2 linked regions of the Homo sapiens genome follow. The protein of the gene in region 1 purifies or fractionates together with the protein of each later gene. This does not show direct contact. Each region holds a gene or a part of one and is shown on either strand. Other genes may lie near its edges.

Region 1 (3,500 bases):
GCCCAAATCTGCATATAGAGAGAGGTATAGGACTGGAGTTTGGGGAAGGTGGCGGGGTGGGCCTGGAGGATAAAGAGGAAGAAGAGGGGCTGGGCCCGGTGGCTCACGCCTATAATCCCAGCACTTTGGTAGGCCAAGGTGGGCAGATCACCTGAGGTCGGGAGTTCGAGACCAGCCTGACCAAGATAGAGAAACCCCATCTCTACTAAAAAATACAAAATTAGCCAGGCATGATGGCGCATGCCTGTAATCCCAGCTACTTTGGAGGCTGAGGCAGGAGAATCGCTTGAACATGGGAGATGGAGGTTGTGGTGAGCCGAGATCTTGCCACTGCACTCCAGCCTGGGCAACAAGAGCGAGACTCCATCTCAAAAAAAAAAAAAAAAAAAAAAGAGGAAGAAGAGGGATACAGATACCTCTAAGTGTGGCCTTAGTCACTCTGCTATCTCACTGTCTGCATGCCCGGAAGCTGACACCAGCCCCTCAACTCCTCTGGCCAGCCCATCCTTGCACATCACGTACTGCCTTAGCTGCAGGCCTTTGCACATGCCAGTCCTACGCCCAGAATGGTCCCCTGCCTCCCCAGAGGCTCCTTTACCCACCAGCCTTCTTTTCTTGACCTAAATTTCCCTTTCTCTGGGAGAGCCTCCTACCCTCTCCTCTAGGCCATTCACTTCTTCCACATGCCCCACGGTGCCCACTCTTTCAGCTGGGGCAATGCTCATCACACTGCATAGTAATTGCTCAGTTAGGCCAGGCACAGTGTCTCACGCCTGTAATCCCAGCACTTGCCGAGGCGAGCTGATCGCTTGAGCCCAGGAGTTCAAGACCAGCCTGGGCAGTATGACAAAACCTCATCTCTACAAAAAAAAAAATACAAAAATTAGTCAGGTGTTGTGGTGTACGCCTGTGGTCCCAGCTAATGGGGAGGCTGAGGTGGGAGGATTGCCTGAGCTCAGAAGGCAGAGGTTGCAGTGAGCTGAGATCACACCACTGCACTCCAGCATGGGTGACAGAGTGACACCCTGTCTCAAAAAAAAAAAAAAAAAAAGCTTGATTAATAATTAATTAACGGTTTTTCTTCCTAAGGGCTGGGATCATACCAGTTTCCTTCACTGCAGTGCCTGAACATAGTAGGCATAGTAGATTCAATAAATCTTTGGTTCATTGGCTGGTTGTTGCCTGCCGTGTGCTGATGAGAAAGGAGCCAGGCTTCCAGGATTTCCTTGGTGTTCTTGGCTCCCTGCTCTGTCTACCTCTCCCCTGCCTCTATGGTACCTTCCCAGGACTGTCTTTGGGCTGCTGCTTGCATTGGTAGGGTCTCTTCTTCAGGGCTGAGGAGGCTGCTCATGGGATAATGAGACCCCTATACGATGCTGCATGGGAGCTGGAGTTGGATGGGGGCCAGTGGATTATCCGCGCAACTCTGCATCCCCCTCCATCTACTCCTCCCTGGTTTTGTTTCTCTGGGGTAAGGAATAGAGCAAAGACTGGGATGGGTGAGCTATGAACAGAGGGTCTCAGCTGAAAAGTGGAAGATGTTTTATTCCATGCCTGGACATCTCTCATTCCCTCTGCTTACTTTTTGCTGCTGTGAGGTCAGGGGAATTTAGGAGCCCTGAGGAATGCTGCTGCTCTCCCTAGCAGGGCGAGGTGACCCTCCACTGGCCCCCATCCAACCCCAGCTCCCATGCTGGAGGTAACCACAGAAGAGGAGAGAGAAGTGGATAGAGCAGAAAGCCAAGAACACCAAGAGAATCCTGGAAGCCTGGCTCCTTCCTCATCACCACACAGCTGGCAAGACACAGTAAGCAACAGATAACCACCAACCAGCCAATGAACTCAAGATTTCTTGAATCTACTGTGCCTAGAATGTTCAGACACTGCAGTAAAGGACACTGGTACGATCCAGCCCGTGGGAAGAAAAGCAATCAATTGAGCAATTACTATGCAGTGTGATGAGCACTGCCCCAGCTGAAAGAGTGGGCACCGTGGGGCATGTGGAGGAAGTGAATGGCCTAGAGGAGGGGGTAGGAGGCTCCCAGAGAAAGGGAAATTTAGGTCAAGAAAAGAAGGCTGGAGGGTAAAGGAGCCTCCAGGGAGGCAGGGATCACTCTGGGCGTAGGACTGGCATGTGCAAAGGCCTGCAGCTAAGGCAGTATCCAATGTGCAGGAATGGGCTGGCCACGGAGGAGTGGAGGTGGCATGAGATGGGCAGAGAGGGGCCAGGGCCAGGTGGCAGAAGGCCTCATGGCCCACATTAGGGAGTCTGAACTCTACCAGAGGGCCATGGGCCAAGTGGAGGGTTTCAGCAGGAGAGCTGCCTCCCCTGTGGAGGCCAGGATGGAGGAAGTGGAGTGGAGGCAGGGTGAGCATCAGCTTCTCCACAGATGGGTGGAGAAGTGGCGGCAGCCTGAGCCACAGAGATGGCAGCGCCAATGGCCAAAAGAGCACAGTCAAGCTGACAGGCTTGGTGTTTGGTTAGAGAGGGAAGAGAGCGGGGCAGCTCAGCGATGCCCTCAGGTCCTGGCTAGGGCAGGTCCTGACTAGTGTGGGGCGCAGCAGAGAAGCTGTGGGAGAATGGACAAGGAGGCCCTTTCTGGGCATGTTGAGTGTGAGGAGCCCGCTAGACACTTGGGTGGGATGGCCAGTGAGGAGGCAGCTGGTCATGTGGTCTCACTTACAGACACATTTGGAGGACAGCAAATCACAGATGGTCATCTGAGCCATGGGCATAGATGAGAGAGCTCAAGGAGAGGGTACAGACTAAGAAGAGGGGCCCAAGAAAGCCAGCCTACAAAGCAAGAAACTGGCAGCCAACCAGATTCCCTAAGTAATCTGCTAACCAAGGAACTAAATAGCTAACAGCTCACTAAAAGCCTGTTTCTTTTCTTTTTCTTTTTCCTTTTTTTTTTTTTTTGAGACAGGGTCTCACTCTGTCGCCCAGGCTGAAGTGCGGTGGTGGCACAGTCACAGCTCACTGAAGCCTAGACTTCCCAGGGTTCAAGCAATCCTCCCGCCTCAGCCTCCCAAGGTGCAGGGATTTCAGGCATGAGCCACCACGCCTGGTGGCTTACTAACCCTTTGACTAACCTATCAAAAACCAACTAACTGATTCTCCTGTTAACCAGCTATTAACTCATTTAATTATCTAATCAACCAGCCAACCATAAACTATCCAACTAACCACGAGCCAACAATTCAACCTGCTAACCAACATTTCTTAATTCAACAAACATTGGTTGGCCAGGCATGGTGACTCATGCCTGTAATCCCAACACTTTAGGAGGCCGAGGCAGGTGGATCACTTGAGGTCAGGAGTTCAAGACCAGCCTGGCCAACATGGCAGAACCCCATTTCCACTAATAATAAAAAAAAAATTAGCTGGGCATGGTGGCAGGCACCTGTAATACCAGCTGGGGGGGGAGGGGCTGAGACATGAGAATCGCTTGAACCCAAGAAGCAGAAGTTGCAGTGAGCCGAGATCATGCCACTGCACT
Region 2 (2,996 bases), on another chromosome or scaffold:
CAAAAGTCTTAATAATCATAGAGTCAGGGCAAGCACCTGCTTCTTACCAAGTGTTTCTGATCTGCAGGGTCAGTGCAATATTTCCCTGGTGGTGGGGAGCCGGGGAGAGAGGGAGTCTCAGAGATCAGTGTGGGGTCAAGCCACCAAATGATGGGGCTGAAAAATAAAAAATATAAATGAATCTTAGTTATCAGATTATGCTGATCCAGATTCCAGGAATTAGCTTCCCTTTTTGTTCTGATGCTTTATAAAAGACTCCATTTGTGGAAAAATTCCCAAGTGGTGAGGGCTGAGTAGTTGGTGATTGTCCACCGGAGTGTCCGACAGAATCACATAATGTTGACTGATGGAGTAGGCTGTGGAGGGGGAGCTCCCGACTCATCCTCCATGATGACTGGTCAGTGGGGAGAGCAGCAGTTCCCCAAAGATAAGAAACCATTTGTGGGGTGCGAATGTTTCTAAACCAGGAAGTGGTCAGCAATACAATCTAACACAACATGTTCACATTCTCAATATGCTTTATTCAACAGAACAAAAGAAGGCAAAGAGAGCAGAGAAAGCAGTGCAGGAATGCAGACTGCATCAGAAGGTACATCACTTGCCATTCAGGGACACTGCAAGAGAAGATCAGGACAACTGACTTGTCAGATGAGAACTCCTGAGTGTAGCTATAATGGGCAGGATGGTTAGCAATTAAAGAGAGGACTCCTCATCTGCAGCTGGACCTAGACTGAGTTTCAGTTCTTATGGGGATATAGGTCATTTTCTTCTCAGAATTATGGCAGACTCAGATACCTGTAATAATACGGGAACTAAAAAGGACATTCGCATGTCTGAGTGCTGATAACTGTTGACTTGATGGTAAGCAACAGGAGCTCAGTGGAACAGGTATTGATGAGAAGAAAAGTGAGGGCATCCCAGCTCTACCCGGGAGGGCAGGGGAGACTGGAGGCCAGGGGAGGACAAGCAACCTGAGGAGAGGGCTCTGCTGCCAGAGAGGGGCCTGAGAGCTGTGGGACTGAGAGCTGGCGGCAGCACTTCAGTGCTTGTAGCTCTTCCTGCTGGAGGAGGAGGTGGTGGTGTACTTGATGGTGGAACTGCCGCCTCCAACAGAGCTGAGGCCACCCCCAGTGGCTCTGCCGCTGCTGGAACTAAAGCCGCCTCCAACGCCAAGACCACTGCCATAGGAGTAGCTGCTTCCTCCACCCAGGCCTAAGCCACTGCCGACACCGCTGGCACCGCCATAGCCACTGGAGACGGTGGACTGCACTACAGCTGTGGTGGGGAGGGGACAAGGACACAAGAAGCCACAATGAGTTCATCCTGCCGGCCTGAGCCCAGTCAGGAGAGTGCAAGGGCAGGGGAGGAAGGCAAACAAAGGTACTTACAGATGTTGACTTGTCCAACGCCTTCGCCATTCAGCCTGTGGAGAGGAACACAGGGAGGGTGAGACCTTCCCTGGACGAGCATGGGAAGCCTCAGTGGGTGGGAAAGTCCATGGGAAAACTTTTAGTTTTCTCCCAAGAAGAGCAATTATGGCCTTGGGCAGTGCACCTTAAAGTTGTGCTCAGTGCCAGAACCTTGAAGATGGACTCAGCTGTTGGAGGAAGTCGCGTCAGTTACCCACCTGCACTCCTCGCCCTCCAGCAGCTTGCGGTAGGTGGCGATCTCCACATCCAGGGCCAGCTTGACGTTCATCAGCTCCTGGTACTCCTTCAGCAGCCGGGCCAGGTCCTGCTTGGCCTTCTGCAGGGCATCCTCCAGCCCTTCCAGCTTGTTCTTAGCATCCTTGAGGGCCATCTCCCCACGCTGCTCAGCATCAGCAATGGCGGCCTGTAGGTTGGCACACTAGGAGGGCAAAGGAAGAGAAAGAACTTGTCATCTGGTCTTCCAGAGAAGAATAAACCTGGCTGGTTCTTTTCCAGTGAAGAAGGCACCAGGAACCCAGAACTGATGGTAAATGAGCTCTGACTCTTCCTGTCTAGCCTTTTTACTGTCTTCAAAGTTTTTACGTCTGGAGTCACATGATAAAATCCTGTGCCCTTTCTGTTAACTCCACTGCCTAAAGATGTGGGTGATGACCAATGGAAGATGCCACAGTGGACACAAGACCAAGGACATTAAGTGTTGGCTCCAAAGCAAAAAAACCAAAACCATTTTTGATGACCTTACATGGATGCCACAATAATTTGCAAACGTTGTCAACTGAGGTGATGAGTTTTCACATGAGGCTGTTGTGACCTTGCCTTCCTCCTGCCTCACATCCTCTCACCTGCTTGGGCCACGTTTTCCTTCCTCATAGCCCTGGTTTCACTTGCTTTTTCACCGTGAACCTTGAGCAGATTTGCAGCAATGTTACTGATGCTTTCTGACCTGACATCTTGCCCAACTTGGTCCTTTGCAATTCCAAAGTCAATCAGTCTTCTTACATAAGCCCTTCCAATGCCTCTAGACTATACTTTTACAGCTTTGACCAGCTGAGAGTGCTTCTGCCCAGGTGATTGTTTCATATCCTTGGGTGTGATCCATGTCTCTGAGCCAGAGTGTTCTCACTGAGCCTAGGAACTGCATGTCTTTCCTTCTCTGCTTATCAATCAATTCCCAAAGAATTTTACTAAATGATGGGTGACTACTGCCTCATGACCTAATAAAAAAAATGATGCTTTTCTCCTCCATTGCCCCTCACCATACCTGCTTCTTGACGTGGTCGATCTCAGATCTCAGCCTCTGGATCATGCGGTTGATCTCAGCAATCTCCTGCTTGGTGTTGCGCAGGTCGTCCCCATGTCTGCCTGCTGTGATCTGCAGCTCCTCGTACTGCAGCCCAGAGGTGGAGAGAGAGACAGTGTCTACGGGTTCTTACCTGGGAGCGATGACTTTCACTTGTGTATCATGAATGTCATGAAGTGGACCTAATGGCTTCTCCCCAAGAAACTTGAGGAAAAGTTGATGTTATGTGGTGGGTGGATACTAAACACTGGAGTCACAGACCATCC

What was found. The genes of interacting proteins can lie anywhere in the genome.
Region 2: the proteins of AQP7 (region 1) and KRT6B purify together in Homo sapiens (pull-down; one study listed by IntAct). This does not show direct contact.

The regions. Positions count from the first base shown.
Region 1 is NC_000009.12:33,396,069-33,399,568, forward strand, and holds part of AQP7 (aquaporin-7), read right to left. Parts: intron 1-3,500. UniProt on the Homo sapiens protein: Aquaglyceroporins form homotetrameric transmembrane channels, with each monomer independently mediating glycerol and water transport across the plasma membrane along their osmotic gradient. Could also be permeable to urea.
Region 2 is NC_000012.12:52,446,151-52,449,146, forward strand, and holds the end of KRT6B (keratin, type II cytoskeletal 6B), read right to left. Parts: intron 2,818-2,996; coding exon 2,692-2,817; intron 1,849-2,691; coding exon 1,628-1,848; intron 1,424-1,627; coding exon 1,389-1,423; intron 1,276-1,388; coding exon 1,040-1,275; 3' UTR 501-1,039; downstream 1-500.